Homo sapiens: one gene and its partners. The protein of the gene in region 2 interacts with the protein of the main gene of each other region in a pairwise test. Each region holds a gene or a part of one and is shown on either strand. Other genes may lie near its edges.

What was found.
Region 1: the proteins of UTP25 (region 2) and RUFY1 interact in binary tests that used the Homo sapiens proteins (3 or more experiments, as listed by UniProt).
Region 3: the proteins of UTP25 (region 2) and ZBTB10 interact in binary tests that used the Homo sapiens proteins (3 or more experiments, as listed by UniProt).
Region 4: the proteins of UTP25 (region 2) and MIPOL1 interact in binary tests that used the Homo sapiens proteins (3 or more experiments, as listed by UniProt).

Annotation. Positions count from the first base shown.
Region 1 is NC_000005.10:179,595,545-179,603,122, forward strand, and holds part of RUFY1 (RUN and FYVE domain-containing protein 1), read left to right. Parts: intron 1-359; exon of another isoform or gene 360-1,017; coding exon 1,018-1,137; intron 1,138-1,277; exon of another isoform or gene 1,278-1,417; intron 1,418-2,708; exon of another isoform or gene 2,709-2,811; intron 2,812-3,147; coding exon 3,148-3,277; intron 3,278-3,723; exon of another isoform or gene 3,724-3,845; intron 3,846-3,940; exon of another isoform or gene 3,941-4,091; intron 4,092-4,528; exon of another isoform or gene 4,529-4,554; intron 4,555-6,347; coding exon 6,348-6,442; intron 6,443-6,519; exon of another isoform or gene 6,520-6,722; intron 6,723-6,832; exon of another isoform or gene 6,833-7,228; intron 7,229-7,578. UniProt on the Homo sapiens protein: Activating adapter involved in cargo sorting from early/recycling endosomes. Regulates retrieval of proteins from endosomes to the trans-Golgi network through interaction with the dynein-dynactin complex.
Region 2 is NC_000001.11:209,844,535-209,852,112, forward strand, and holds part of UTP25 (U3 small nucleolar RNA-associated protein 25 homolog), read left to right. Parts: intron 1-6,669; coding exon 6,670-6,913; 3' UTR 6,914-7,578. UniProt on the Homo sapiens protein: Component of the ribosomal small subunit processome for the biogenesis of ribosomes, functions in pre-ribosomal RNA (pre-rRNA) processing. Essential for embryonic development in part through the regulation of p53 pathway.
Region 3 is NC_000008.11:80,496,226-80,503,803, reverse strand, and holds part of ZBTB10 (zinc finger and BTB domain-containing protein 10), read right to left. Parts: intron 4,311-7,578; coding exon 3,422-4,310; intron 1-3,421. UniProt on the Homo sapiens protein: May be involved in transcriptional regulation.
Region 4 is NC_000014.9:37,494,523-37,502,100, reverse strand, and holds part of MIPOL1 (mirror-image polydactyly gene 1 protein), read right to left. Parts: intron 2,194-7,578; coding exon 1,963-2,193; intron 1-1,962.

The DNA of each region.
Region 1 (7,578 bases), on a different chromosome or scaffold from region 2:
TTGTTCTTGTTTTTTTTTTTTTTTGAGCCAGAGTTTCGCTCTCATTGCCCAGGCTAGAGTGCAATGGTGCGATCTCAGCTCACCGCAATCTCTACCTCCCAGGTTCAAGCAATTCTCCTGCCTCAGCCTCCCAAGTAGCTGGGATTACAGGTGCCTGCCACCATGCCCGGCTAATTTTGTATTTTTGTAGAGATGGGGTTTCTCCATATTGATCAGGCTGGTCTCGAACTCCCGACCTCAGGTGATCTGCCCACCTAGGCCTCCCAAAGTGCTGGGATTATAGGCATGAGCCACCACACCTGGCCAGCTACCGTTTCTTTAATGACAATACCAAGTGCTGATGAGGACACGGAGCTAATGGATCTCTCATACTTTATTGGTAGGAATGCAAAATGGTGCAACCACTCAGGAAAACAGTTTCTCAAGAAGCTAAACGTCCTCTTACCATATGATCCAAATAGAAATGAAACTTATGTCTACACCAAAACTAGTACATATGTTTATAGCAGCTCCGTTCATAACTGCCAAAAGCTAGAAGCAATCCCAATGTTCTGCATTGGGTGATGGATAAACAAAGTGGTACGTCTGTGCGGTGAAGTATGACTCAGCCGTAGAAAGGAATGAACCACTGCCCTTTCAGGACGTTCAGAGAGGAAACAAAAGGCATGAACCATTGATACACATGGAAACTTGGATTGATCTCCAAGACATTATTCTGAGAAAAAGTCAGTCTCAAGGTTATATAATGTATAATTACATTGAGATTACATTCTCAAAAAGCCAAAGCCATATTGTTGCAGGACAGATGAGTGGTTGCCAGGGGCTGAGGTGGGGAGTTTTGGGAGTGGTGGGACCGTCCTGTATTCTGATTGTGGTGGAGCTGAATCTCCACGTGTTAAAACTCACAAGAGTTAATTTTACTGTATGGTAATTTTAAAAATGAATTTCAGCCAGCAAAAGTCATCCTTTCCTTACAAAGATTTGCTTCATTTGCACTCTTGCTGGTGTCGCATCCAGGTTGCAGCACTCGGAGCGGGCGAGGCAGGGGGCTGAGGAGCGGAGCCACAAGCTGCAGCAGGAGCTGGGCGGGAGGATCGGCGCCCTGCAGCTGCAGCTCTCCCAGCTGCACGAGCAATGGTAGGGGCCCTGCAGGGAGCCTGGGCTGGGGTGTGGCTCAGGAGGGACTGGGAAGAACTGGGGACAGGTGGTATCCTGCTTCAGCACGAACGGGAGGAGGGGGGGCGGGGGGGCAGGTGGTATCCTGCTTCACCACTCACCCCTGCAGGGTTCGTATGTTATCCCTAGGGAGCTCCCTCCCCACAGGGCTCCTCACGTGGTCCAGCTCGCCTCCAGAAGATCTGGCCACTCTCAAACCATGGTACCAGGTCACAGCCTGTATCACCCTTAACCACCCTTTCTAAAAAGAAACAGCTTTGTCAGTGTTGAACAGAAAGTCACCTTTCACCTAGCCTTTGCTGATGCAAGCTTCATATAATTTTGTGCACAGTTCATCTACAGATTTTTTATTTTTTAAGTCTCACTCTGTCATCCAGGCTGGAGTGCAGTGGTGCAGTCTCAGCTCACTGCAACCCCCACCTCCTGGGCTCAAGCGATTCTTGTGCCTCAGCCTCCTGAGTAGCTGGGACTACAGGTGTACATCAACACACCCGGCTAATTTTTGTGTTTGTGTTTTGTTTTGTTTTTTTTTTGAGACCGAGTCTCACTCTCTTGCCCAGGCTGGAGTGCGGTGGCGCGATCTCGGCTCACTGCAACCTCTGCCTCCCGGGTTCACGCCATTCTCCTGCCTCAGCCTCCCGAGCAGCTGGGACTACAGGCATCAGCCACCACACCTGGCTAATTTTTTGTATTTTTAGTAGAGACGGGGTTTCACTGTGTTAACCCAGGATGGTCTCGATCTCCTCACCTCGTGATCCTCCCATCTCGGCCTCCCAAAGTGCTGGGATTACAGGCGTGAGCCACTGCGCCCAGCCTAATTTTTGTATTTTTATTAGAGACAGGGTTTTGCCATGTTGGCCAGGCTGGTCTCAATCTTCTGGCCTCAAGTGATCCACCCGTCTCGGCCTCCCAGAATGCTAGGATTACAAGTGTGAACCACCGTGCCTGGCCTATAGATTTTTTGAGATAATATATATGCCAAGTTAAAAGCCTGATGTTGAGAGAAGAGAGAAGAGACATCTTTATTCCCACAAAGAGAGAGCAGACTCCAGGCGGTCCAGCAGTGCCCCCAGGGCCACTCAGCTGGTAAAGGGCAGAGTCAGCTTCAGGCTGAGGCTCCCTCCTGGCCTTCTCCCTCCAGGATCCTTCATTGTCAGTCTGGCTGTAGGTTGTAGAAAGCAGAATGAGGCCGGGCGCGGTGGCTCACGCCCATAATCCCAGCACTTTTGGGAGGCCGAGGCAGGGAGATCACGAGGTCAGGAGTTCAAGACCAGCCTGGCCAACATGGTGAAACGTCATCTCTACTAAAAATACAAAAAATTAGCTGGGCGTGGTGGCGTGTGCCTGTAATCCCAGCTACTAGGGAGGCTGAGGCAGGAGACTAGCTTGAACCCAGGAGGCAGAGGTTGCAGTGAGCCAAGATTGTGCCACTGCACTCCAGCCTGGGCGACAGAGCGAGACTCCGTCTCAAAAAAAAACAAAAAGCAGAATGAATTGGCCAGTGAGGTGGCTCATGCCTGTAATCTCTGCACCTTGGGAAGCTGTGGCGGGAGGATCACTTGAGCCCAGGAGGTCGAGGCTGCAGTGAGCTGAGGTTGCGCCACTGCACTCCAGCTGGGGTGACAGAGCTAGACCCTGTCTCAAAAAAAGAAAAGAACGAATTTTGAGCTTCCTTTCCTCAGGTCTCCATGTCGGGAGGGTTCTGCTTATGTGGTCTAAGTGTTCTAGAGCTCTCTTCCTTCTCCCCTGCGTAAGTGTCAAGTGTGTGCCTGCAGGCTTTTCTCTCCCTGGTTCCTGCTCTTTCTTGTGGAAGGGCAGGTGACCCTGGAGGAGAGGGAAGCGTTGCCGAAGGCTTTAGATGCTCAAGAGGCAATTCAGAGACTTCCCTGTTTCCTGGGCGGTGAATTGGGTTGTGAATCTTCCGTGAAAGTCTCCCACTGAGACTAACTCAAGTTCATTTTGGGAAAACAGCTCAAGCCTGGAGAAAGAATTGAAATCAGAAAAAGAGCAAAGACAGGCTCTTCAGCGCGAATTACAGCACGAGAAAGACACTTCCTCTCTACTCAGGATGGAGCTGCAACAAGTGGAAGGACTGAAAAAGGTGAGGTGGGCCATCCCGGGAGAGGAGAGCCTCTGGCAGCCTCCAGAAACCCCTAACATGCTCCGGGCAGGCTCCTCTCCCCGCACCCTTTGTGTGGGGGCCAGGCGGCTCCAGGGTGTGGGGAGGCTGTTAGGGAGCTCCTGTTTTAGGAGCATAAGACAAAGACAAATCATAAACCACTAAGCCTGCTGGCAGCTCAGATAGAGGCAAGTGCCATGAAGAGAATAAAGCAGAACAGTGTCCTCACCCGTGTGCAAGGGGCCTGGGGAGGGAGCGACCGGTGAGCAGAGGCTCCAGTGAGTTATGCCCTGCAAAGCACCTCTTGGGTGGAGACTGCAGGAGCAGACAGCAGTGTGAGGAGCAAAGAGGCGGCCTCAGGCGGCAGGCAGGAGGAAGCCCTTCATGGGCCCTGGGAGCCAGGGGAAGGAACGTGGGTTTTATTTTACCAGAGTGGGCAGCTGGTGGAGGGACAGGATCCGTTCTGTTTGCGGATGGTCATTGGCTCCTGTGTGGAGAGTGGGTGGTAGGCTCGCAGGAGAGGAAGCTGGGAGGAACCAGTAAACATCTCCTACCACATGCCAGCCTCACCTCAGCCACTGTGCCCAGGGTCGGGTCATCCCTGGGAAGCAGACCGACCCCAGCCCTCCACTTCCCCTACATCACCTCAGTTCCATGGAGGACCCTCTCACTTGGAGGCATGGCCTGGATGCTGTGGGCTTCAGAGGGCGAGAGAAGTGGGGTCCAGCAGGCCTTCACTGTCTGGCTGTGGAACTGGACCTCCCAGGAAACTCCGAGGCCGTGTGGAACATTTGCCCTAATGTAAAATCATCGGCTGTTTTCCCAGAGGGGAGGAGGCTCTGCGATCCTGGATGGAGCTGACTGCAGCCTGGGGCGCTCTGGGGGGCTCCTCCCACGTGGGGATGGCGTGCCCTCTTCTCAGGCCCCTGCGCTGCCGAGCGCTGCAGGAAAACTGAGCCCAAAGCAGACCTCCCCTCGGCACCTGCCCCGGAGGGGCCTTCAGGGCCAGGGTGGCTTCTGGACCTGGATTTTGTTGTGTTGAACGTGGTAATGGACACACTGCACGATTCGAGCGAGTCAGGAAAGGCCCTTTTGATTTCCATTGGAAAGTGCCTGGAGTTGTTGGGGAAGGGAGAGCTTCCTCAAGAGCCAGATCAGGCTTGGAGAGTGGAAGGGAGGAAGTGGAGGGCAGAAGAGGACTTTCAGAAAGTCCCGCCTCATCACGGGGCATACCTCCTTTATTCTGCTTCAGAATGCTTCTGTCAAAAGATTCGAATTACACAATTACAGCCCGCCCCAACAATAGGAACAAAACAATGTCTAATAACCCCAGTTAAGCCACAGCTTTGTGCTTTGCAAGCCTGTGCATGGAAGCAGAAGCTACGGCACAGGGTGTGCAGAGAGCCACCCCGCCACTCGGGCCCGAGCTCCACCGCTGCTCCCAGTGGTCCCAGAAACCCCAGTTACTTTCTGGGTCTCCATCCTGGCCTTAACAGACTGGCTCAAGGTGCACTGGCCCCAGGTGTCAGTGCCGTTGCCCCCTGGGGAACTCCCTCCGTGCAGGGCTCCTCACATGGTCTAGCCAGCCTCCAAGTGGTCTAGCCATGAAATGAGGTCCCAGGTCACCCCCTTCATCATCCTTGACCAGTGCTTTCCAAAAAAGCAGCTTTTTCAGAATTGAACAGGAAACCACCTTTCAAACTAGTCTTTGCTGATGCAAGGTTCGTGTGATTTTGTGTACAGTTCTTCTATAGATTTTTTGAGATAGCAATCTGTTTTGTAAAATGTTTATCTTTTAAAAAGAAGCTCAAATAGGCAAAGCCTCATTTGTCCTATGATGGTAACTTTTTTTTTTTTTTTTTTTTTTTTTTTTTTGAGACGGAGTCTTGCTCTGTTGCCCAGGCTGGAGTGCAGTGGTGTGATCTCGGCTCACTGCAACCTCCGCCTCCCCAGTTCAAGCGATTCTCCTGCCTCAGCCTCCCGAGTAGTTGGGATTGCAGGCATGTGCCACCATGCCCTGCTAATTTTTGTATTTTTAACTAAAGGAGGGGTTTTGCCATGTTGGCCAGGCTGGTCTTGAATGCCTGACCTCAGGTGATCCGCCCACCTCAGCCTCCCAGTGCTGGGATTACAGGTGTGAGCCACTGCGCCCAGCTGAGGGTAACTATTTTTAATGTGGCTGATGAATGTAACTATCCTGTCCCATGTCTCTGTCCCCAGCTGCAGAGCCCTCGTCGAGTGCTTGCCTTTTAGCTGCCCAGTGTCAAGAGTAAGCTAGCAAGAAATAATCTTGAATGACATTAATACAGGACTGCATTTTGCTCTTTTTTTTGGTTTTGTTTTGTTTGAGATGGAGTCTTGCTCTGTCGCCCAGGCTGGAGTACAGTAGCACCATCTCGGCTCACTGCAACCTCCGCCTCCCGGGTTCAAGCAGTTCTCTTGCCTCAGCCTCCCAAGTAGCTGGGATTACAGGTGCCTGCCACCACACCCAGCTAATTTCTGTATTTTTAGTGGAGACAGGGTTGCACCATGTTGGCCGGGTTGGCCTCAAACTCCTGACCTCAGGTGATCCACCTGTCTTGGCCTCCCAAAGTGCTGGAAGTATAGGCATAAGCCACTGTGCCTGGCCACCTTTTGCTCTTGAAAAACATTCTGATCTGCTTGTTGCTCTGGTTGCTGAATCTTTTTTTTTTTTTTAAAGGCCAGTGCAGTGGCTCACGCCTGTAATCCCAGCACTTTGGGAGGCCGAGGCGGGCAGATCACGAGGTCAGGAGTTTGAGACCATCCTGGCCAACATGGTGAAACCCCGTCTCTACTGAAAATACAAAAATTAGCAGGGCATGGTGGCGGGCACCTGTAGTCCCAGCTACTTGGGAGGCTGAGGCAGGAGAATCGCTTGAACCCAGGAGGCGGAGGTTGCAGTGAGCCAAGATCGTGCCACTGCACTCCAGCCTGGCAACAGAGCAAGACCCTGTCTCAAAAAAAAAAAAAAAAAAAAAAAAAAGGACCGTGTAATCCTCTGTCCAGCATCTGGTTGGTTTGTTCATTTTAGGAGTTGCGGGAGCTTCAGGACGAGAAGGCAGAGCTGCAGAAGATCTGCGAGGAGCAGGAACAAGCCCTCCAGGAAATGGGCCTGCACCTCAGCCAGTAAGAACCCCACTCCCCTTGTCTGCCACTGCAGGCACACCAGGCTACCCACCACATCCCTCAGGCCCCAAACCTACCTCCTTTTGGCGAACGGAGGGTGGGCCATTTAGGAGCTCAGTCCGCCGTTCACGGATGAGCTCTCAGGAAGCCCGGCCTCAGAGGGGCCCAGCACTGATCTCTGCTACCCACATGGGGTGTCAGCGAGCTCTTAGTTAATTCAGGAAGCACGTTCATTCCTAGTGACCAGGACACTCCTATTCCTTAGCTTCATATCCAGGGCCTGAGGGAACAGATGGGCAATGAGAGGATCGCTTGGTCAGCCTACAGTCAGGCCAGAGGGAGCAGGGCTGGTTTGGGAACGGAAGCCTGGCACAGTAGAGGTGCACTCACCCGCCTTGCACAGCACAGCCCCCTTCCTTTCGGGGAACTGGCCACTGCATCCGCCAGAGTCTGTCTGTCTCTGCTGCAGGTGCTGATGGGGTGCAGACCCTGGTAGTTCTGCTCCCCTCTGACTTGACAGCTCTCCTCCTTGGTGTCCCAGTCTAGATAGGTTGCTGTGGACGCCTGGGCCTTGGGGTGGATCACACTGCGGACTGTGGAACTTGCCCATTTGTGTGATGATTCTGCATTTTCAACATAGTGGGTAGCTTTTCTCCTCGAGTCAGGGCGCATGGTTGCAAGTAACAGAAATCCAACTCAAAGTGGCTTAAGCAAAAGAAGCCATCAGGAATCGGTCTCTGTCTCCTACCTCTGCTATCCTGTCTGCCTCACAGGTGGGTCTGGACCCTGCAGGGGCAAAACAGCACTCAGCAAGGCCATCTATCAGAGGAACAAACTCCCTCTTCTTTGTGCATAGCTGCCAGGATCACCCGAGATTGACCCTGCTCCCGAGTACCCATGCCTGACATAAGCACCATGACCAAGGAGATGGGGCTCACGACCTCAGCACAGCCTGGTCTGCACCAGAAATTTGTAGAGTCTAGTACTATTAAGAAAATAGGCCGGGTGCGGTGGCTCACGCCTGTAATCTCAGCACTTTGGGAGACTGAGGTGAGCAGATCACCTGAGGTCAGGAGTTCGAGACCAGCCTGGCCAACATAGTGAAGCCCCGTCTCTACTAAAAATACAAAAATTAG
Region 2 (7,578 bases):
GGCAGGAGAATAGCTTGAACCCGGGAGGCAGAGGTTGCAGTTAGCTGAGATCGTGCCATTGCACTCCAGCTTGGGCAACAAGAGCGAAACTCCATCTCAAAAAAAAAAAAAAAAAAAAAAACCAACTCTAATTAGAGGGTTAGTAATACTGAGCCTTCTATTACTGTTTGGGATAGTGGCGGCCCTTCTGGCCCTAGAGCTCATGTATTTTATTGTTTTGCTAAGTCTCTCTCTGTTGATAAATAGAAAAAGCTTTTTTATTTTTTAGATTTTTATTTTCAATTTTCATGGTTGCATAATATGTAAAAGGCTTTTTTTAACCCTTGCCTGTAGAGTTATGTAAATTACATTCTGTTACCTCATCCTGATTTCACAATAATGTCCAGTGGATTTAAGTTCTGACTTTACTGTTTTATTAACTCACAATGGGTGCATTTTCTCAGAGAATCCTAAACAGATACGCCAGAAATCTCCCAAGCTTTGGAGCACATTAGATGATGCACTTTGGCATTGCATTACCTTTTAGTTTATGCTAAAACGATTAGGATGGTGCTCCCCAGATAACGTCCTTGTTCCCAGGATGGGGAGGGAGGCGTCCCAGCAGCTTGCCTAGGCATAGCAAAGCTGGCATGGCATGACCTCTTAGAGAGTTGAGGATTGATTAAATTTGTGTTTCCCAGGCTCCATTCTTGGCTACCCAGAGAAGGCTGCTTGGCCAAAGAGTGTTAATGAATGCCTGCTTGTTGCCCTCATTATTTGCTCTGTTCCAGTAAGTTGTCGTTTCCATTCATGTTGGAAAGTATTTGGGGAAGTTGCACTCATCAGGTCTTAAAAGCTCTTAGCTTTCTATCATCTTGACAAATGAAAGCAAGCCCTTTAAGTGAAGTGGATGGATTGGAAAACTTCCCAGTGTGATTGTCTATGGCAACTGTGAATTAAGCTGGGATGGGAATTAAGCTCTTTAATATCTCAGCAGCTTTTCAAGGACAGGGCATGGAGCCCTTTGTAAGCAGGACAGTCTCCTGTATTACACTGTCTATTTACCAAGCCATGTTGCCCTCAAAGTCACGATAAGGACAAATCTCAGCATATGCCATTTGCTTTATGCCCTGGGCCAGGTTAATTGGTGTTTCTTTTGTAGAAGATGAATGAAAATAATGTGCTTTAGAGTTCTGCAACAGCTAATTATCTCAAGGTTTCCAGCTATAGAATTTTTTGCTCGAGAGATCACCAAGGTGATGATGGATGTTTTGGTGTGCAGTGCCTTTGTGATTTTTTTTTTTTTAATTTGACCTTAGAATAAGTACTTTTTTTTTCTTTTTCTTTTTCTTTTTTTTTTTTTAAGACAGTCTCACTTTGTTGCTCAGGCTGGAGTGCAGTGGTGTGATCTCGGCCCGCTGCAGCGTCTGCCTCTTGGGTTCAAGCAATTCTCGTGACTCAGCCTCCTGAGTAGCTGGGATTACAGAATTGCATCACCACGCCTGGCTGATTTTTGTATTTTTAGTAGACGAGGTTTTGCCATGTTGGCCAGGCTGGTCTTGAACTCCTGGCCTCATGTGATCTGCGCACTTCAGCCTCCCAAGAAGTGTTGGGGTTACAGGCATGAGCCACCGTGCCCGGCCAGAAAATGTACATGTATTTTATATTGTAGTATCTGACTCTGTTTTTATATTCTCTATGACAGCTGGCAATGTTAGGAAGATTAGAATTCATTTTTGAGTTAGCAAAAATTTTTTAACCTGAAGATTTGTTTTATGTGGGGAAGATTAAACTAGCAGAATCTTAGAATTGGATGAACATTTGGTCATGATTGCCCTCCCAGTGATGGGTCACAGCTCTTTTCCAGTGCGTTATCAGTGGGTTTCCACAGCAGGGAGGATCTCAACCAGGAGGCAAGTCAGAAACTGGAGGTGGGATTTGTGGAGTTTGGAAAGGCTGCTGGGAATTTCTGATTACTCCCTTCCCCTACAGGAGAATCCCAGTTCTAGAAGTAGTAGACTTGGTCTTTATGGACCGTAGGAAGGAGCCAGTCTTTCAAGTTCATTGTGGTTGCCTCATTTGTCTTTAACAGTGGCTCGTGAAATAGACATGTGGAAGGTACTGTAAGGGTGATTAGGCTGTGTTTGTAGGAGTCACTGAAAACAAAGCATATATAAGGGAGGAGGAAGGCAGGGTAAGGGGTGCTCAAGCTATGGAGACTTGCCACTAACTGCCCCTTGGAAGAGGCCCTGGCCATGTTCTCTGTTGCCAGGAGATACTCAGTCTCTATTGTGGTTGCATTGGGACTGAGACAGATTTTCATGTGTGTGTGTTTAATATAACACTTAACAGTTTTATTGTTTTGTTTTTCCTGATTGTGAGGGTATTTCACAGTTATTGTAGAGATATTGGAAATTTTAGGTTAAAAATCTCACTGCCCTGATATAAATACTCTTTTTGGTAATTTTTTTCCATCTTTTTTATGTGAAAAATGTGTGCACATGCACACGTGCACACACACACGTGTTTTTTTAAAAAACAATACTAAAATTAGGATCTTTTTTTGTTTTAAGGATTTTTTTTTCCTTTGTCTTAGATGTTTTATGTGCTCATTTAAAAAAATTCAAAGACTAACATTTTGGCCTGTATATTTGTATATTGTGGATTTTTGTGTATATTTTTAAGTTACTATATATAGCTCTACGACATCCTCTCTTCCCCCAGGTTTTTATTTGAAAAGATTTCATTGTGAAAGAAAATTGTTAAGAGACTAACAATAAACATCTGTTTATTTATAAATGCTTTTACCCCAAATTCCACCAGCTGTTCTCATTTTATCACATTTGCACATACCCATCTTCTCTCTATCCCCACTCACATCTCTTATTTTTTCTTCCTGAACCATTTGAAAGTAAAGTAGCGTGAGTCTTCATTGACACTTCACCCCTAAATATTTTAGCATGTAGCTCCTAAAAACAAAAACATTCTTTTATCTAACCATAGCACCATTATCATGCTACCTGATGTTACTACAGTAATATCATCTGATATCTAGTCTATATTCAGATTTTGCTAGTTGTCACCAAAATGACCATTATAGCTCTTTCCCCTCCGGCCAAAAAGGATTCAGTAAGGATCATATATAGCATTTGGTTAACTTACTGCTTTTGTTTCTTTAATCTAGTTTAGTTCTCAATTGGGGAACAATTTTGCTCCCTCAGGGACATTTGGCAATATCTGGAGACATTTTTGGTTATCACAACTGGAGGATTATTCTGGTGGTTCCAGTGGGTTGAGACCAGTGATGCTGTGAAACACCTTCGTTCACAGGACAGCCCCCAACCACAAAGAATTATCTGTCTCAAAATGTCAGCAGTGTTAACACTGAGAAACCCTCATCCAGAATAACTCTCTTGCTTTTTTACTTTTTCATGACATCGACATCTTTTTGAAGAGTCCAATCTGGTTTCCTGCAGTATGTCTCACAGTCTGGATTTATCTAATTGTTCCCTTGTTATTTAGATCAGTGGTTCTCAAACTTTGCCGTACGTTAGAATAGAAGCTTTTAAAAATCCAAATGCCCAGGTCACATCCCAGTACCAATTAAATCGCAGTGTCTGGGATGGGGACCAAACCTAAGTATTAATAAAAAAAATAAAAAAACAACCAGCTAGGTGATTTCAATGTGCAGCAGTTTGGGGATGACTGATTTAGAATAAATATCTTTTGATAAGAATTCTACTTAGGGAATATTACGTACTTTCTACCTCATCTCATCAGAAGGCACGTAATGTCACTTTGTCTCATTCTTGGTGATGCCAAATCACTAAAATCACTTAGTGTGTGTATGTAATTAATAAGTAACGTGTGAGGTAAACATCACATTGTTTTTAATGGCTACATAGTATTACATTGGTTAATTAAGCTAGCTTCCTTTTAGTGGGCATATAGGGGTTTTTTTTCTGTTTTCTGCTGTTGTATATAATAATACGCAAAACATCCATATGCATATGTTTTGATGAAATACTTACCTAGTTATTTTCTTGGGATAGATTTTGAAAGGAAAACTCGTTAGCACAGAGGCTGTACACAGTTAAAAATGTGTCATGCGTTGCCACTTATTTGCTCCTTTGCATCTTTTCCATATCTTCTCCTGAATTCATAGACAAAGTAATTTATGCTCCATTCACCTATTTCTCCAAAGCTCCATAGACTGAATTATTGCTACTGATGTGATAGTCAAAATGATACCTCATTGTTTGGATGTCTTTTCTTGCTTTTTTGTGTCTTCTATAACTTTCAATGGAATGTAGAGGCTGAAGTAAATAATACTTATGTCCGGCCGCACCCCTTCCGTAGGCCACTGGTGTGGGTGCTATCAATCTAGTCAGGATTTGATTGTTACTGTAGATACCTTCCCAACACCACAGACCTCAAATTCCTCCAGCAGACAGTGGGCTTGGTGTAGGGTCTCGGGTGCTGGAGGGTTTTTCTCAGTGTCCTGATTGCTCAGCTGTCACTGAGGCCTTGACACGTGTGCCAGAGGAGGGTCTCACTCCACACTCAGACCCCTCCTCACAGGAGGCCTCTTGTTTCTCCTTGCAAGGCATGAAGTCGGGGGGAGGGGGTTCTCCTGGTCCAGCTCAATTTTTGGCAGGCCCTTTTTATTCCAAGCTTTGGGGGTGAGGTTTTCTCAGGGTTCCTGCCCCGCTACCTCCGTGGCAGCCAGACTCCACCTTTTATCTGTGAGGGATCTTTGTGGTGAAGTGTATACAGCTTCTTCCCTAATCGAACTCTGCTTGTATCAGTGCAGGAACTTGGGCTGAACAGGTTTCTTACCCCTTCCTCTGGGGCAGAATGCTTTTTACTGGGTACAAGTCTTGTGTGGGGGACAAATGGAAGGGTGGGGGTTTACTGCCCTTCCCTTAAGGGCAGACAACTTTTGCTTCTACTCACCCTCCCCCTCAAGTGGTTTGCCTTTGCCTGCCTGCGATTAGGGGTGGGGGACAGGGTGGCTCCTTTCTTCTCCCCCGTGTGCTTCACGTTTTTACCATGGGTTTCACGATAATGGGCCTGGGAAGTAGGTGGGCTTTCATGTCCCTACCACCAGTGGGGTCTCCCTCGGGTCTTCTGCTTTCTCCAGGGCTCCCAGTGCAGGCCTCTGGAACAAGCTCATGAGTGGATGTGAACTAAAGGAGCATCCAGGGATCCCTGGGGTCCTGAAGTCAGGCAAGCCTATTCTTGCCCTTTAAGAATGTGTTAGAAGTGTATCTATTTTCTTACTACCCACTTTTTTGGCAGAGGCCATCTTTCTCCTGTGCTCTGCCTAAGGTGCAGTAGTTCCTGTGTCCCGTTTTTCCTCAGAAGGGCTACTCTTTGGAACTCAGTCCATGGTGAGCTGAAGCTGGCTCACACTGGCTCATGAGACCTGGCTGCACATCTCTGGGTCAGCAGCATGACATTGGTAGCTTGAAACTGACAAATCCTTCAAATTAGCACCCTCCCTTTCTCCCACTGAGGACCAATTATTAAACATACACCAGCTCACCACCTAATTCAGGTTACCTGATTGCTTCATGATGGTAGCTCTTTGGGCTCAAGAAAAGGAACATTTTTGTATAATAGATTATCTGACTTTTTCTTATTGGTATAGGAGCAATATTCTCGAGTTTTATACATTCTAAGCAGAAGTAGAACTCAGTGTTGTTTTTGTTTTGAGAACTAGTGAGGTAGAACAGTTTATTCAAGTTCATTAGCCGTTAGAATTCCTTCTTTATGGAAAGGATGTTGAAAGGTGAACCACATAATAGATCACAGTCATGGTTTGGGAAAGGAAGGTCTCCAGAGAGATCAGGATGAGCTGTGAGGGAAAAAGACAAGGAAAACTTACCTTCTGTGAAAGAAATAAAATCCCCAAGGGAGTCTAACGTCTTCAGTGTATGAGAGAAACTTAACAGGAAAAATCAGAAGCTTGTCAACATATAAAATCTTTTGTTATGGAATCCCACAGGGGAACGGTTGACGTCAGCCTGACTGAACCATACTGCAAGTCAGTCCCTTGGGTGTACACCACCCCCCACCACAGGGCGGCACTGTGCAGCTGGGAAAGAGATGGAAATGCATACGCTGTTGAAACTAATTGCTTTCTCATGATGCCTAGTGGGTCCTTGGGCAGGGTTTTGTAAATGGATGAACTTGGGACGTCTGCCATGGAGTTAACATGTATCCAGAGTGGCAAGAAAAGACTAATGGGAGTGTATTTACAATCTGTACAACTTATTTTATGTACTGGGTCTGACCTTGTCTCCATTCTTTTTTGCCTGATTATAATAAGGCTAATGTTCCATTTTAAGTGCCTGCTTTTTAAGTTTTCTGTGACAGATTTTTAAATCCTGGTCTACTATTCTTTCCCATGATACCTCAGCCTACCCAGTGTAGGATCAAGAAATGTGTATTTATTTTATCATTTTCTTAAGCCAAATATTAGGAATTCGAATATGTTGTCATAAAAAGAATTCAAATATGTTGCCACCTCAAGTTAGAATAACTTTTGTTCTGTTACTTGTGCCACTGTTTTTCTCCATTAGCAGGAAGCAACAAGCATGAACTATGCCTCTGTACAACTCCTAGGTAGTTTTTCTAGAACTTGTTTCTCAAGTTGACATAGCTCTTTCTTTCCAATTCTGACAGGTATACAATAAAAGGCATCAGGAACCTGATTTTCTATGAACTGCCGACATATCCACACTTTTACAGTGAAATCTGTAATATGCTGAGAGCCACCAACAGAGGAGAAGAGGCCACGTGGACCTGCACTGTTCTCTACTCCAAATATGATGCCCAGAGGTTAGCTGCCGTGGTTGGTGTGGAGCGGGCGGCACAGATGCTACAGTCCAACAAGAATGTCCACCTCTTCATTACTGGAGAAAAATGAAATTTTGTTGGGCAGGAAGTGGTATTTGGCATGATACATAATGTTTGATTCTATGCCATTTGGACCCAATTCTGATTACTTACAGAAGAAGGACTGATACAAAGAAAGTGCATGAGGCAATGTCAGTATTATCTGACATCTTTCTTTTCAGGTCATGTGTCCCTGAAAAGTTAAATGTAAACCAGATTTTGGTAAATCCCATCTTTCAGAAGTGAAGAGGGGGCTAGAAGGACTCTGAGAAGTTGGTAGAAGAAAACTCCCACTTGTGAATATTTTTGTGAGACATAAATTCTTTTATTACGATTTACCTCTAATTTATTACACTTAGTAAATTCTTCCAGATTTTTCTATTTGTTTGACACTTCCTTAAAGTAAGGAATACACATTGCTTGCGAGAACTGGTTATGAGACATTGGAATACTTCTTGCTGCTACATGTCATCTTAATTTTGGATGGCATGGGTTTTGTAAAACTTATTCTGCCCCAGCCAAACTTTTTTGAAACCTTAAATAGTCTACCTTAATTCAGCCTAGAAGAGTACATTGATTTACTGATCTTTTTTCATATTCATAATACTAAATGTTTTAGTTTTGTTCAAATATATGCTTAAAATCACGTTATTTAAAAAACACATCAGCTCTGTCTCAAGAAGTAATTTTGTTGAA
Region 3 (7,578 bases), on a different chromosome or scaffold from region 2:
GCCTGTATTCCCAGCACTTTGGGAGGCCAAAGTGGGCAGATCACTTGTGGTCAGGAGTTTTTGAGACCAGCCTGGCCAACATATAGTGAAACCCTCTACTAAAAATACAAAATACAAAAATTAGCTGGGTGCAGTGGTGCACGCCAGTAGTCCCAGCTACCTGGGAAGCTGAGGCAGGAGAACGCTTGAATCTGGGAGGCGGAGGTTTCAGTGAGCCAAAATCATGCAACTGCACTCCAGCCTTGGTGACACAGGGAGACTCTGTCTCTCAAAAAACATAAATAAATAAATAAATAAATAAATAATAAATTACACTATTCCCAACGACAGAATTAGGAAGTTATAGAGAAGCAAATTTTGGCTACATTTAAAATGACTACCTAATAATCAGTCATCCTACACTGGAAGCTGCTTAGGGAAGTCTTTACAAGCAGTCAAAAAATCAAGCTGAGGCTAAGACCATCTATCTGGCATTTGGTAGAAAGTACACAGCACCGGAAAACTGATATGAATAACCTCAATAGTCTTTTCCAAGTTTAAGGAGGATTGCCATGACCAAGAGTTATTTCATATTTGTCACTTCATTTTCATAATAATTCTATAAAATCAACACAATATTTTAATGAGGAAACTGAGGACAAGAGCTTAATTTGATCATGGACTACAGGGGGTAGGTGGCACAGCTTATTTTTAAATTTTAAATTCATTATGTTTGACTCAATTTAGGCTCTTTCCAATATAGTAATATTTGCTGATCTCAGCCTTAACTCATAAAATTACCTGTAGAACTTTAAAAAAAATTCCACATCCAAACCACATTCCATACCAATTAAATTGGAATCCACAGAAGAGAGACCCTTTACGGCATGTAATGCTCCCAAGTGATACCAACGTGCATACCCATGATTAAGAACCACTGCTATATACGAAGGGTTGGCAAGTTTTACTGGAACACACCTACCTTCATTTGTTTACATAGTACAAATGACTGCTTTCATGTCACAAGTGGCAGAGTTGATGAGCTGACTTTTATGACCAACAAAGGTGAAAGTCTTTTTTTTTTTTACTGTTTTAGCCCTTTACAGTAAAAATTTACCAGTCCTTGGTTCTATATCATATTATATACCCTAACCATAATGCTCTTTTGAGACCCATTTATTTTTTCCACCAAATAACACTGGTGGCATGGATAGAACCAAATTTGTGAGTTAAGCAAGGTTCGGATACCAAACTGGTATCAATGAAATGAAAATAATCCTTTTTAAGAGACGGCTGGGCACGGTGGCTCACCCATGTAATCCCAACATGTTGGGAGGCCAAGGTGGGTGGACTTGAGGTCACGAGTTCGAGACCAGCTTGGCCAACATGGTGAGACCCCCGTCTCTAGTAATAATAAAAAAATTAGCCAGGTGTGGTGGCATGTGCCTGTAATCCCAGCTACTTGGGAGGCTGAGGTAGGAGAATCGCTTGAACCCAGGAGGCAGTGGTTGCAGTGAACCAAGACTGTGCCACTGCACTCCAGCCTGGGCAACAGAGTGAGACTCCGTTTAAAAACAAACAAACAAAACAGATGTAAGAGATAAAGCATATTAGACCACCAATTAATTTATAATAGAACTAGTCCATTAACACAACCATGGCTAGGAGATACTTGATAAAAATTGCTAGTAATGTCATCTTTGAAAGTATGCATTGTGGTTCATTATTAATGCTTTTCTTTAAATCACTCCAATTATATGTGGCATTAATTTTTTAAATGAGGTTACTGCTGACTAGTTACCATCAAACAACCGCTACACCCAAAAGATGTTATTTATTCCTTTAAGGAAAAGTGTGTGTATTTAAAAACACTACAGGGTTCCCACCATACTGTTAAACAGAAATAATCCATACAGCACAAAGACAACGTAGCTCTAATGAGAAATCTGTCAAGGTCTTCTACATTAAGACAAAACAAAGTGCTAGCTAAGGAGTCTATCTACCCTTAATACTTCATTTAACTAAATTGTCTCAGGGATTTTATTGTTAAAACTTGATATAAAGTACAAGGAAAAAGATATATAGTATTCGTTATATATACACACTTGATTTTTCACACAGTAAAAATTTCACACACACACACACACATACATACACAAAATTCCTATCACTGAAAGCTAACCCAAATCTAAAAAGCCAGAGGAACATTTCACAGGATTACTATGGCATTTTGCCCTCTGGCAACTAAAAACAGTGATTCCTTTAACAGAAAATACTCCATCCTCAGATGACCACCATCGTATAAATCAGACACTGAACAGTTACAGTGCTTTGAAGTGAAAAAAACAAGCATTAAATAATGTATGACAGTGGTGGACAAGCCTCAGGCATGCATAGGAAACCTCAAACCCACTGAGCTTCTTCAAATAAAGATATGCACAGCCAGATTAAACTAAAGACTTAACAATGGTCTTCTCGTTTTAAAAAAATTCCCACTGTAAATGTGATTCTCTAAGATTCCTACGGAACTTTTGGAGAGAAATATATTGAAGAGAAAGGCCTCAGAGGCTTTGCAATGAATGCAAAGGTGAATGAAAATCAGGTGACAGTGGACAAACAAAATAGCTTCTATGGTGAGAACAGAACAGTACCTGCTCTAGGCCAGGTGTGGTGGCTCATGTCTGTAATCCCAGCACTTTGGGAGGCCGAGGCAAGCAGATCACCTGAGGTCAGGGGTTCCATACCAGCCTGGACAACATGGTGAAACCCCATCTCTACTAAAAATACAAAATTAGCTGGGTGTGGTGGCACGCACCTGCAGTCCCAGCTACTCAGGAGGCTGAGGCAGGAGAATCGTTTGAACCTGGGAGGCGGAGTTTGCAGTGAGACTCCAGCCTGGGCTATAGAGTGAGACTCCGACTCAAAAAAATAAATAAACAAAAAATAACAGAAGAACAGTAGCCCTAAACAAACTAGAATACCATAATCTCATAATTGGCAAAATTCTTTGAAACACTTAAATATGTTTTAACAGCCAAAAATAAAATAAAAAAGGTTAAGGGGGTCTCTGAAACGACAGTGATTATATATTACAACTAAAGATTCTATCTTTCCCAACACTGGGTATAAAATAGTGAGCACAGAGGCTAAAAATGAGGAAAGTCAAAGACCCGTACATGCAGCAGAGTCCACGTTCCTTGACAATATATGCAATACCTGGCTATTAATACATCTTTTGATAAACCCACATATATATGTGTTGAAAAAAGACAAAGAAAATATACCAAATATGTTATGCATTTGAATGACGTTCCCCCTTCTTTTGTAAACAACTTTAGTATTACTTTATAACTAAAATAATTCAATTAAAAATATACTTCAAGATTATATCCAACTAGAATTAGGATGAACAAGGAAGTATCCTTGTATAGATAATATTTACCTGGTTCTTCCTTGATGAGTAGTGTATTTTCTTCTGGATAGGCAACAGGTGGCTGCATTACTGAGCAATCTTCTAAATTCGTTTCATTATTAGGTGGAATATTATAAATAAATCTTTTTGTAGTTTGGTTTTTCCTCCTTGTTTTGCCAGTCTCTTGAATTCCCTGGGAGCCCATATTATTCCAAATAAACACTTTTGTTTGACCTTCAGATTCATTTTCAGCCATTTCAGGAGATCCATCCTGGACCCAACTACTGTCATTCATTTGGTAGTTTTCTATTTGGCCCTCGTCGACATTACAACCATCATTTTCAATCTTTACATTACTTGCCAAATTGGTAAGATTCCGTGTTGCCCAAAAACTGGCAATTTTTTGATCCCGTGATGAAGACAGACCATCTCTATTAACTGGTTTTCTATTATTATAGTCCACAACTACAGACTCTGGAGCTTCTGATTTAATGCTTATATTTAAGGCATCTTTAATGAAATTTCGGCAAGTTTGAACAACTTCACTCATTTGAAGATAGCTGGCCACGGTCATAACTTCAATGGCATTTTGGCTTGTGAGCACCAGGTTACCAGAATACAAGAAGTCCAAGATGACTGAAAAACCTTGAACTGCAGCAATATCTAAGTGGGTAGTATTGTTTTGGTTAGGGCTTTCTTTGTTTGAAAAGCAATATAAAGTCTTAAAGAAACGGCTGCCTGCAACCAGGATGTTCTTATGAGCTTTGAAGATTTTTCCGCTTACCACAATGCTGACATCACAAAGAATACCTTTCTTTCTCTGTTCATTTAGTTGTCGCAGAAGTTGATAGCAATAAGAGTTCTCATTTGGCCTACTATTAAAGTCACAGTACCCCTCCTCTGATGGTATTTCTGACTCCTGTAATTGGATAAAAAACATTAATATTAAACTTTATTGACTTTTTTAAAAACTCCCAAACCAAGGAAAACAATTATCAAGTTTTTAAAAAGCGATAATCAAATATATTAATTTGTGAGTAATCAAGAAATGGAGTGAACAGTGGTGGTGCAACCCACTGCTATTATTAAAAAAGAAAAAAATCAAACACATCTGACTGAAGATCAGCAGGGTTTCATTTTAAAAATAACATTCATCATGTTATATGTTTCAAATATAAGCTAAGAACATGAATTGAGAATTTCTTAAAATTAAAATTAAAAAGAGCAATTATTTTCTTAAGAAAAGAAACTTTCTCTTATAGGAATTAAATGTTTGCTTTATCTCTATAGAAAAGCAACAGTCTCCCCCGATTGAACTTAAAATATCCAAGTTATATTTTATGCTAGGCATATCACCCTATCTACCATTAATAAAAAGGTAAATTTTAAGTCTTGGCAAACATTAAAATCAAACAGTTTAGGTCAATGAAGTTAATTAAATCTAACTAGAGATAAAGGTAAGACCCTAAGGGGAAAATTTGCTTCAACTATAGGAATATCTAGTTATATAATTTCCTATCAACTTTCAAAACGCTTTATCTCTTTAGGGTCATAAGTACTATAAACTGTAAGGTAAATTAAAATTCCTGAATTCAAAATTCTAAATGTTTATAAATTTTGCTTCTTATCATACAGGTATTCATTATAGTTCTACTTGGCGTCACAATTAAAATTATGTGATATAATCGTAAGAATAAAAGTATGATCCAGAATTCAGAATGCTGTCTGTATCAGCCATTAACTGCGTGTCCTTGGAAAGTCACTATCCCTGAGCCTTTTCCTTAAACGATAAGTCAGTATTACAAATGTTAGTTAAAACTTTATGACTTTCCTCATACAGTGACTAGGTGGGTAAGCTCCCTCAAGGCAGAGCTGAATATCCCTCCAGCACTTTGATTAGTGCCTGCCACACTTTGCTAAACAAATGAAGTAATCATCTCTTTCCCAAGAGAAAAATTGCTTAGACCATTTCTAGTAGAAAAGATAACTGAAAATACTGACCTTATTCAAGTGTCAATTCTTTGGCACAAAATATTAAGTTAAACATAGACCATTTCTATAAAATAATAAAATATATACACATATGTATGGATCTATGATTTTACGAGCATGGAGAAAAACATGGAGAAATAAACACTAGAGTGTAAACAGGCTCAAAGTACTGACATGCTTAGAAGAGAGTTAGTGGTGTAGAGATGACGAGACTGCAAAAGTAGTCTCACAAACAATATCCTAAATGGTGGATCCCTAAACAATCACGAAACATGACTTAATGCAATCATGTGCATGGCTAAATCATAAAAATTTTAGCTTTACTTGGGTGCATGTCACAGGAGGCCACAGACGCTGTCATCTCAATTCTCTGAAACTAACCCAGTCCATCTAAAAATTATAGTGCTGCTCCCAGGTATGAGAAGTCAACTGAAAGAACCCAAATAATATTCCAGGACATGGCCAGGCATGGTGGCTCACGCCTGTAATCCCAGCACTGAAAGGCTGAGGTGGGTAGATCATTTGAGGTCAGGAGTTCAAGACCAGCCTGGCCAATGTGGTGAAACCCCGTCTCTACTAAAAATACAAACATTAGCTGGGCAGTAGTGGGGCACGCCTGTAATGTCAGCTACTTGGGAGGCTGAGGCAGAGGTTGTGGTGAGCCAAGATCATGCCACTGCACTCCAGTCTGGGCAACAGACTGAGACCTGTCTCAAAAAAAAAAAAAAAAAAAAAAAGATTCCAGGACACACTTCAACTGTTTCACTGTGAAAATGGAATAGTATGAAAAACTCTACGAATCTGGAGTATATGATCACTACAGAATGAAGCACACAAAGTAGAGAAATTTCCTCATTTTTGACTGATCCTTGGCAACCTTCCCATACCCTTCTTGTGCCAAGTGCATAAAGCCCTTATACCAAAAAACTCCCACCCATGCCCCCCCCCACCATATAATAATGTTCCATGCTCTAAATTAGCTATTTTCTCCTCCTACCAAAAGATCCAATTCTGCAAAAACTGTTAAGTCACGGATAGAGGAATCAAAACAAGTCCATTCATGAGTAATACCCTTATTTTTGTTTTTGGGGAACTGGAGAAAGGAAATAAGGTAATAATGAGACTTATTTAACCTAAGCTCTTGTATTAAACCAGTATGTTGTATTGGATTACTGCAAATATTTGGTTAAAAGAAAAAAAAAACCAGTATGTTGTGAAATTTCGTATCATGTAGCAAAGAGGAATGAACAATTTAGGACTTGTGTGAAAATGTAAAGAATGATACTAAAAACACCTGTAACAATTACTTGGACAGTGTAACTTTCCACAAAAGCATCATTCTGTTTACTTGGTTTCCCTTTTGAGACTGAGTAAATTTTATTAATTTGCCTATGCTCTCTATAGAAATTACAAATAAGGGGGAAGAATCTTGCTTTGATACAGGCCCAACACTAAAAGCTTTGTTACACAAGCTGTACCTGAACCCAAGCTCATTTGGTTCAGTGTTCAATCTACTATATATTATAGTAAAAGCATGAATATTGTATGAATATTTGGAAGAAGCAAAAGTTTTCAACACTAAATATCTGGCAGCATATATCTATGAACTGTTTGTGGAAGCAGTGAATTAGCATGTACAAGTCAAGAACTGCCTAAAGTCCGTATATCAAGCAGTTGAAAACACTTCAGGAGGTGGCTATGCCTACTGTAGCAGTCATAACACGCTATGGTCACTGCACCCTGAATTTTCTGGGCCAGTGCCAATTGTTAAGATTCTCTGCCTTTATCATACCAAATGTCCTAATTTTTATAACTAAGACAAAAGCCTATCCACCAAAATATCTGCCCATTCTACTTTGACACAAACTGTACAAATTAAACACCATTCAACCACTATTTTTTTTTCTCATTACTATGGTACAAGAACAAGAACATTAATGTCCCTTGTTTTTATAACCAACAACAGCAATTTCTTGTTCACCACTGATTAAAGCACTATTCCATATGTTTGCAGCAGCTATTAAATATGCCCTTCAAAAAAAAAAAAAAAAGAAACCACATAAATAAATATGACCTTCAAAAAAAATGAATCATTTCCAAGAGTATGTGTACTCTCTAAGGAGATCATTATTAGAGGATTTGGGTTAAAGAGCTAAATAAGCACAAAGCACTAAAATAAACTGCCAATATCATTT
Region 4 (7,578 bases), on a different chromosome or scaffold from region 2:
TTGAGCTGCCCAGCCACTCTGTTTACCTTCAAGCCTCAGCAATGGCAGACGCCCCTCCCCCTGCCAGGCTGCAGCCTCACAGGTGGATCTCAGACTGCCATGCTAGCAGTGAGCCATGCTCCATGGGCGTGGGACCCACCAAGCCAGGCATGAGAGAGAATCTCCTGGTCTGCAGGTTGGTAAGACTGTGGGAAAAGCACAGTATTTGGGTGGGAGTGTACCGATTTTCCAGGTACAGTCTGTCACGGCTTCCCTTGGCTAGGAAAAAGAAATCCCCCGACACCTTGTGCTTCCCAGGTGAGGTGACACCCTGCCCTGCTTTGGCTCACCCTCGGTGGGCTGCATGCACTGTCCAACCAGTCCCAACGAGATGAACCAGGTATCTCAGGTGGAAATACAGAAATCACCCATCTTCTGTGTCGATCAACACTGGGAGCTGCAGACTAGAGCTGTTCCTATTTGGTTATCTTGGCCATTCAGTAAAGTTATTTAATTTAAAACATTATCTGAGATGATATTATTTCTACTTCTTGGTGTATAAAAATTGTTTTTTTAAATGAAATGATGATGATAGTTGATGAGATCTAAAAAATAAAAGGTTGATAACACATCCGAAGATTTTTTGAAAATAGAATTGGTCTGTGGGAACCACTGTTTTAGGGAATTTTGGTCATGTATAGAAATTAATGGATTATATATAAAGAAAAATTTGAAATTTGTATGTATTTGTAGACTTTAAGCAAACAGAGCCAAATCAGATCCTGTCAAAAGTTACTGATTGTGATTTATAATGAAATGAGATCTACCTATACATCATAGTGTTCTTAGAATATTAACGTACATTGTGAATAACTGCATATAGTTTCTGACTGAATATAAACCCCATCTTTAAACTTACAAATATATATAATACCTACATAAATCAAAAGTTTCAAGGTACATGGCTAGTAAAGATTAAAATGCACAATTTCTAAACTGTTTTAAAATGGTCTAATTTAAAACTACTGACTTACATAACTTTGGCTATTAATCAAAATATAACTTCAGGGATATTGAGGAAATGGTCAAGATGACATTTTCAAATAAGAAGTAGTGGGAAGTAAGAAACCTTGATGTGAGCACTGCTTCACAGTGTAAAACTGACATAAAAATTGTTAAGGAAAAAGGTATATCTTTGAAATTGAAGGTGACTAGATATGTGAATGCTGTAGTGCTGTTAACAATACATAAAGAAGGTTAAAATATATTCTATTACATGTGTTCTATGTATTCTATTACAGTGGTTCTATTACATTAAAGGTGTCTCAGAAAATTCTGCTACAATGTTCAAGTCCATTAAATTAACAAGTGACTTCTTTGCCTGGTAAGCTGTTTGTTAACATTTTGCTAGCTGTCAAAAGGACTGACAGATTATGCAGCTTTATTTAAATTCTAATAAAAATGCAAAGATCATTCAAAATAAACATATATAATTATGCACTGTGAAAAGCAGTATTGAATACTTCAGAAGAACAACACAAGAAAATTAATTTCACCCTACTGGTTTTTATGCACCTACAAGTCTCAGGTTGCAATGTCACAGATGATCTCAACTCAAGCAGGATTATTGTAAAGCTAAATTAGTTCAGGTGGTAACTTGACTGCCTCTTCCCCTTGCTAATAACTTTGCCTATTAACTTGTGACTGTGAAATGATTTAAATAGTATGGCCTCCATGAACTGATGATCAGTTATTAAATAAAAATGGTTTGCCCTACAGGGTAACAATGGTTCCCAAGAAAATGACTTTTTTGACCCCAAATATGGCATATGGTATCCAATCTAAAAAAGTTCACTGGGTTAATTCTACTTTTGTTCTAAACTATTAACATGATCAATAACTACATATTGTTTAGTTCCCAAAAGAAAGTGTTTTGTTTTGTTTCATGTGTTTGAAGTATTATTACAAGATCATTTAACTTACTTTTGAACTTTTTCATTGGCCACTTGGGAGGCCTCTCTGGCATGTTGAAGTTGTAATTCCATATTTGCTCGCTCTGTCAGAGCTTGTTGCAGTTGAGTAGCCAGTTCCTCATTTTGTTGTTGAGTGATGGAAACAATGTTCTCTCTGTTTTTTAAAGCTTCTTCATATGTACTAAGGGTATAGTTAAACTGATCCTTCAGATTTTCTTCTTGAGATAAAGATTTGTGTAAACTGAGAAAATATTAAAAAAAATTTAAAGATAAGTAATGTAAACTGAGTGATCTATGATCTATTTAACAAAAACCTCCATTTAGAATCTCTAGTTCTAAAAATCAATAAATACTTAAATGAGCAAATGAAAATAATTTTTATGTCACAACATTATAATTGATAATTTCTCTGCTTCTAGGCTGAAAGCTACCCAGACAAATGATTATGCTACCAAAGCATACAAAAAGATGCTGCAAGATGTTAATTTAATTATATCAGTGTAAATATTACATTCAATTTTCTTTAAAAGGAATAGCAGAGAACTGGAAAATAAAGTATCTCTAGGCAAATAAAAGAATGTAATAAGCTGAAAGAAGTGAGAAGAGAATGGGCATTGGTTTAGGAGATCGAGGGTCTATTCTGCCAAGCACTTAATGAGAATGGATGAGGTTTATGCAAACACTGACCAGCCTTCTACATAGCATTTTCTACTTGATCTTCTACTTGTCACAGTTGAGATATAAATGAATTTAAAATCACTAGTCAGATTGCACAGAAATAAAATGTATTCATATATACATGTGTATATTTTTTTTTGGCTAATGAATCTCTTAACGAATACATCTACTCATTAAGTCATACAGAGAAATAGCATATAAATTAAGACTAAATGAATGCAGAAGAAAATGCAGACAAATAGAATCCTAAAATGCTAAAGGTCAAATCTTTGATATGTCATTACACCTACCACCTGAGGTTATTTTGAAATGGCACCAAGCACCTCACTCAATTAAATAAAGACATTTTGAAAATATAAATATTTAATAAGAGAAATTTAAACTCCACACAGGAGATGTTCTTTTTTATTAAATATCATTTCAGTATATGCATACAAAGGAAATGTCGATTGGAGACATTTGAAGTAAAACAACTTAACTATATAATATAGATTGATAATGGGAAGGAAAGCAATATCATTATTAAACCTGCAAAAAGCTAGTTAGTGAACTTTGGCATTGTCCTAATATCTAGCCTGATACTTTCTTTAAAACTGTTCAAAGTAATTATAAATTTCCTCTTTTAGTTTAAGTTATCTATAAGCCTTTACAGTATGCTTATTTTGGAGAAGGCGTCCCATAGAACTAGGATGGATATGAAACAAGGACAGTCAGCATACCAAATGAAACCACTTCAGGATTCAAACCCCTAAGAATACGGACTGTTACTAAGCGCTGGTCAACTGGTTACTACACAGAAAATTAGAATAGTGTGTAGTGCCACATTTGTAGAGTGCAAAAAATACCTTTTTTCATGGTTTGCACATTGTTATTAATCTAACTATCCCTACTTCATTTCTTCTCAGATTTTTCTACCAACCCATATGCTTAAAGGCTGTCTCTTGCCCATTTTACTATTTTTTCTGTGTCCTCTCACTTTCTGCATTCTTGTCTGTTCCAAGTTCCAATTTTCTTCAGCTCACCCTCTTTATCTCCATGAAAGATGCAAGAAAGAAAGAAAGAAAAGAAGAAACAAACTAAAAGCTAAACCTTAAAAAAGGTACTTGTTTATGTTCTTTATATTTAAAACATTAGTTATATTTTAATTGTTAATTACGTTTTAAATTACACAAAGTGCATATATACAAAGTATTCAGCTTGAAAAAATGTGAAGAACAAAATACAGAACAAATGCAGAAATCTAGAAGACCCCCCAGTGTTCCCTCCCATTTTTTCCCCTCCCCAAAAGGTAAGTACTAATCCAACCTTTATCAAAATGTAAATTGCCTATTTTTAAACTTTTTGTCTGGCTTATTTTCCTCAACAATTGGTAAGTGAAGTTCACCTTGCTGTTGCATATAATTCATTGCTTTTTATTGCTATAAAATATTCTGTTATATACATATGCCGTAACTTATTTAACTGTCCACAGTTGTTGCTATGGATATTCCTGTACATGTCTTTTGATGGACCTAGGTATTCATGTGTAAAGTAGAATTTCTCCAAAGGGTATGCATTATTTTCAGATTTAGTACAATGATAATAGATGCTGATTTAGATTTAGATGCTGCTAATAGTCTTCCAAATTAGTTGTACCAATTTGTACTCCCATCAGCAAAATATGAGTTTCAATTGCTTTATATCCTCCCTCAGAATGGCACTGTCAAATGCTTTTAACTTTAGTTATTGTAATATGGATGCAGTGATGTTTCATTCTCTTCGTATTGTCTTATGTATGTGTATATTATTGATTGGTTGAGACAAGTTCTCACTATGTTTTCCAGGCTGACCTTGAACTCCTGGGCTCAAACAGTCCTCCTGCCTCAGCCTGCTGAGTAGCTCGGACTATGGGCATATGCCACCATGCCTGACTCTTAATGCTGTCTTTTGATGAAGGTAAGTTCTCAATTTAAATAAAGTTCAATTTATCATTGTTTCTTTAATGGCAATGCTTTTTGTAAACTGTTTAAAAAATCTTAGCCTACTCCATTCCCTTATATTTTAACTTTACATATATGGCCTAATTTAAAACTCAGTGAGACAGCTTCGTTTGGGAATTCAGCATTTGCCTATCATGCCTAAAGCAGTAACCAGTATACCGTAACCAATTACATATTAAGAATCAATGATTAGATCCCATTTGTCAATTTTGTCTTTTGTTGCCATTGCTTTTGGTGTTTTAGACATGAAGTCCTTGCCCATGCCTATGTCCTGAATGGTGATGCCTAGGTTTTCTTCTAGGGTTTTTATGGTTTTAGGTCTACCGTTTAAGTCTTTAATCCATCTTGAATTGATTTTTGTATAAGGTGTAAGGAAGGGATCCAGTTTCAGCTTTCTACATATGGCTAGCCAGTTTTCCCAGCACCATTTATTAAATAGGGAATCCTTTCCCCATTGCCTGTTTTTCTCAGGTTTGTCAAAGATCAGATCTATGCGGTGTTATTTCTGAGGGCTCTGTTCTGTTCCATTGATCTATATCTCTGTTTTGGTACCAGTACCATGCTGTTTTGGTTACTGTAGCCTTGTAGTATAGTTTGAAGTCAGGTAGTGTGATGCCTCCAGCTTTGTTCTTTTGGCTTAGGATTGACTTGGCGATGCAGACTCTTTTTTGGTTCCATACGAACTTTAAAGTAGTTTTTTCCAATTCTGTGAAGAAAGTCATTGGTAGCTTGATGGGGATGGCATTGAATCTGTAAATTACCTTGGGCAGTATGGCCATTTTCACGATATTGATTATTCCTACCCATGAGCATGGAATGTTCTTCCATTTGTTTGTATCCTCTTTTATTTCATTGAGCAGTGGTTTGTAGTTCTCCTTGAAGAGGTCCTTCACATCCCTTGTAAGTTGGATTCCTAGGTATTTTATTCTCTTTGAAGCAATTGTGAATGGGAGTTCACTCATGATTTGGCTCTCTGTTTGTCTGTTATTGGTGTATAAGAATGCTTGTGATTTTTGTACATTGATTTTGTATCCTGAGACTTTGCTGAAGTTGCTTATCAGCTTAAGGAGGTTTTGGGCTGAGACAATGGGGTTTTCTAGATATACAATCATGTCGTCTGCAAACAGGGACAATTTGACTTCCTCTTTTCCTAATTGAATACCCTTTATTTCCTTCTTCTGCCTAATTGCCCTGGCCAGAACTTCCAACACTATGTTGAATAGGAGTGGTGAGAGAGGGCATCCCTGTCTTGTGCCAGTTTTCAAAGGGAATGCTTCCAGTTTTTGCCCATTCAGTATGATATTGGCTGTGGGTTTGTCATAGATAGCTCTTATTATTTTGAAATACGTCCCAACAATACCTAATTAAAGAGCTTCTGCACAGCAAAAGAAACTACCATCAGAGTGAACAGGCAACCTACAAAATGGGATAAAATTTTCACAACCTACTCATCTGACAAAGGGCTAATATCCAGAATCTACAATGAACTCAAACAAATTTACAAGAAAAAAACAAACAACCCCATCAAAAAGTGGGCGAAGGACATGAACAGACACTTCTCAAAAGAAGACATTTATGCAGCCAAAAAACACATGAAAAAATGCTCATCATCACTGGCCATCAGAGAAATGCAAATCAAAACCACAATGAGATACCATCTCACACCAGTTAGAATGGCAATCATTAAAAAGTTAGGAAACAGGTGCTGGAGAGGATGTGGAGAAATAGGAACACTTTTACACTGTTGGTGGGACTGTAAACTAGTTCAACCATTGTGGAAGACAGTGTGGCGATTCCTCAGGGATCTAGAACTAGAAATACCATTTGACCCAGCCATCCCATTACTGGGTATATACCCAAAGGACTATAAATCATGCTGCTATAAAGACACATGCACACGTATGTTTATTGTGGCACTATTCACAATAGCAAAGACTTGGAACCAACCCAAATGTCCAACAATGATAGACTGGATTAAGAAAATGTGGCACATATACACCATGGGATACTATGCAGCCATAAAAAAGGATGAGTTCATGTCCTTTGTAGGGACATGGATGAAATTGGAAATCATCATTCTCAGTAAACTATCGCAAGAACAAAAAACCAAACACCGCATAGTCTCACTCATAGGTGGGAATTGAACAATGAGATCACATGGACACAGGAAGGGGAACATCACACTCTGGGGACTGTGGTGGGGTGGGGGGAGGGGGGAGGGATAGCATTGGGAGATATACCTAATGCTAGATGACGAGTTAGTGGGTGCAGCGCACCAGCATGGCACATGTATACATATGTAACTAACCTGCACAATGTGCCATGTACCCTAAAACTTAAAGTATAATAAAAAAAATATTAAAAAAAAAAAAAAGAAAAATTACCTAGAAAAAAAAAGAATCAATGATTAAGTTTTAAAAGTCTCACCATTATGAAAATTATGAGCATCCTGATTTAATTTCCTAATCACTCCTCACTTTCTAGTCTTCTATCATTTAATTTTTAGGGGGCAAATTTATACCTGATTTTGATTTTTCTCTCAGATGGACATGTTTGGATTGTACCCGCAAGTTCAAAAGCTGCTTAGCATTCAAAATACCTTGGAAACCTGTTAATTACCATCAAGGCTTTCCCAAGCAATGGACATGATCTTTTTAAAAAGATGGAAGTAGACAATGTCACTTAAAAACCTGCAATAGCATGTCCTTGCATTCAGAAAACAGTCTTTAAAAATAATAAATGCTATATGTTAACTCACTAAATGTCACAACTTGCATGAGAAGTCTTATTAATATTCCTTTTTTTACTGATACAAATGGAAACAGAGATAAGTAATTTAATACATGTAGCAGAGCCAGAATTTGAACCTACAGTCTTTATGTCTGCACTGGAAACCTCTTCTATACTTGCTGTGGTCTATAAAGCCCTGCATCACTGACCTCTCTACCTCCTTCCTCACCTTTTAGCTA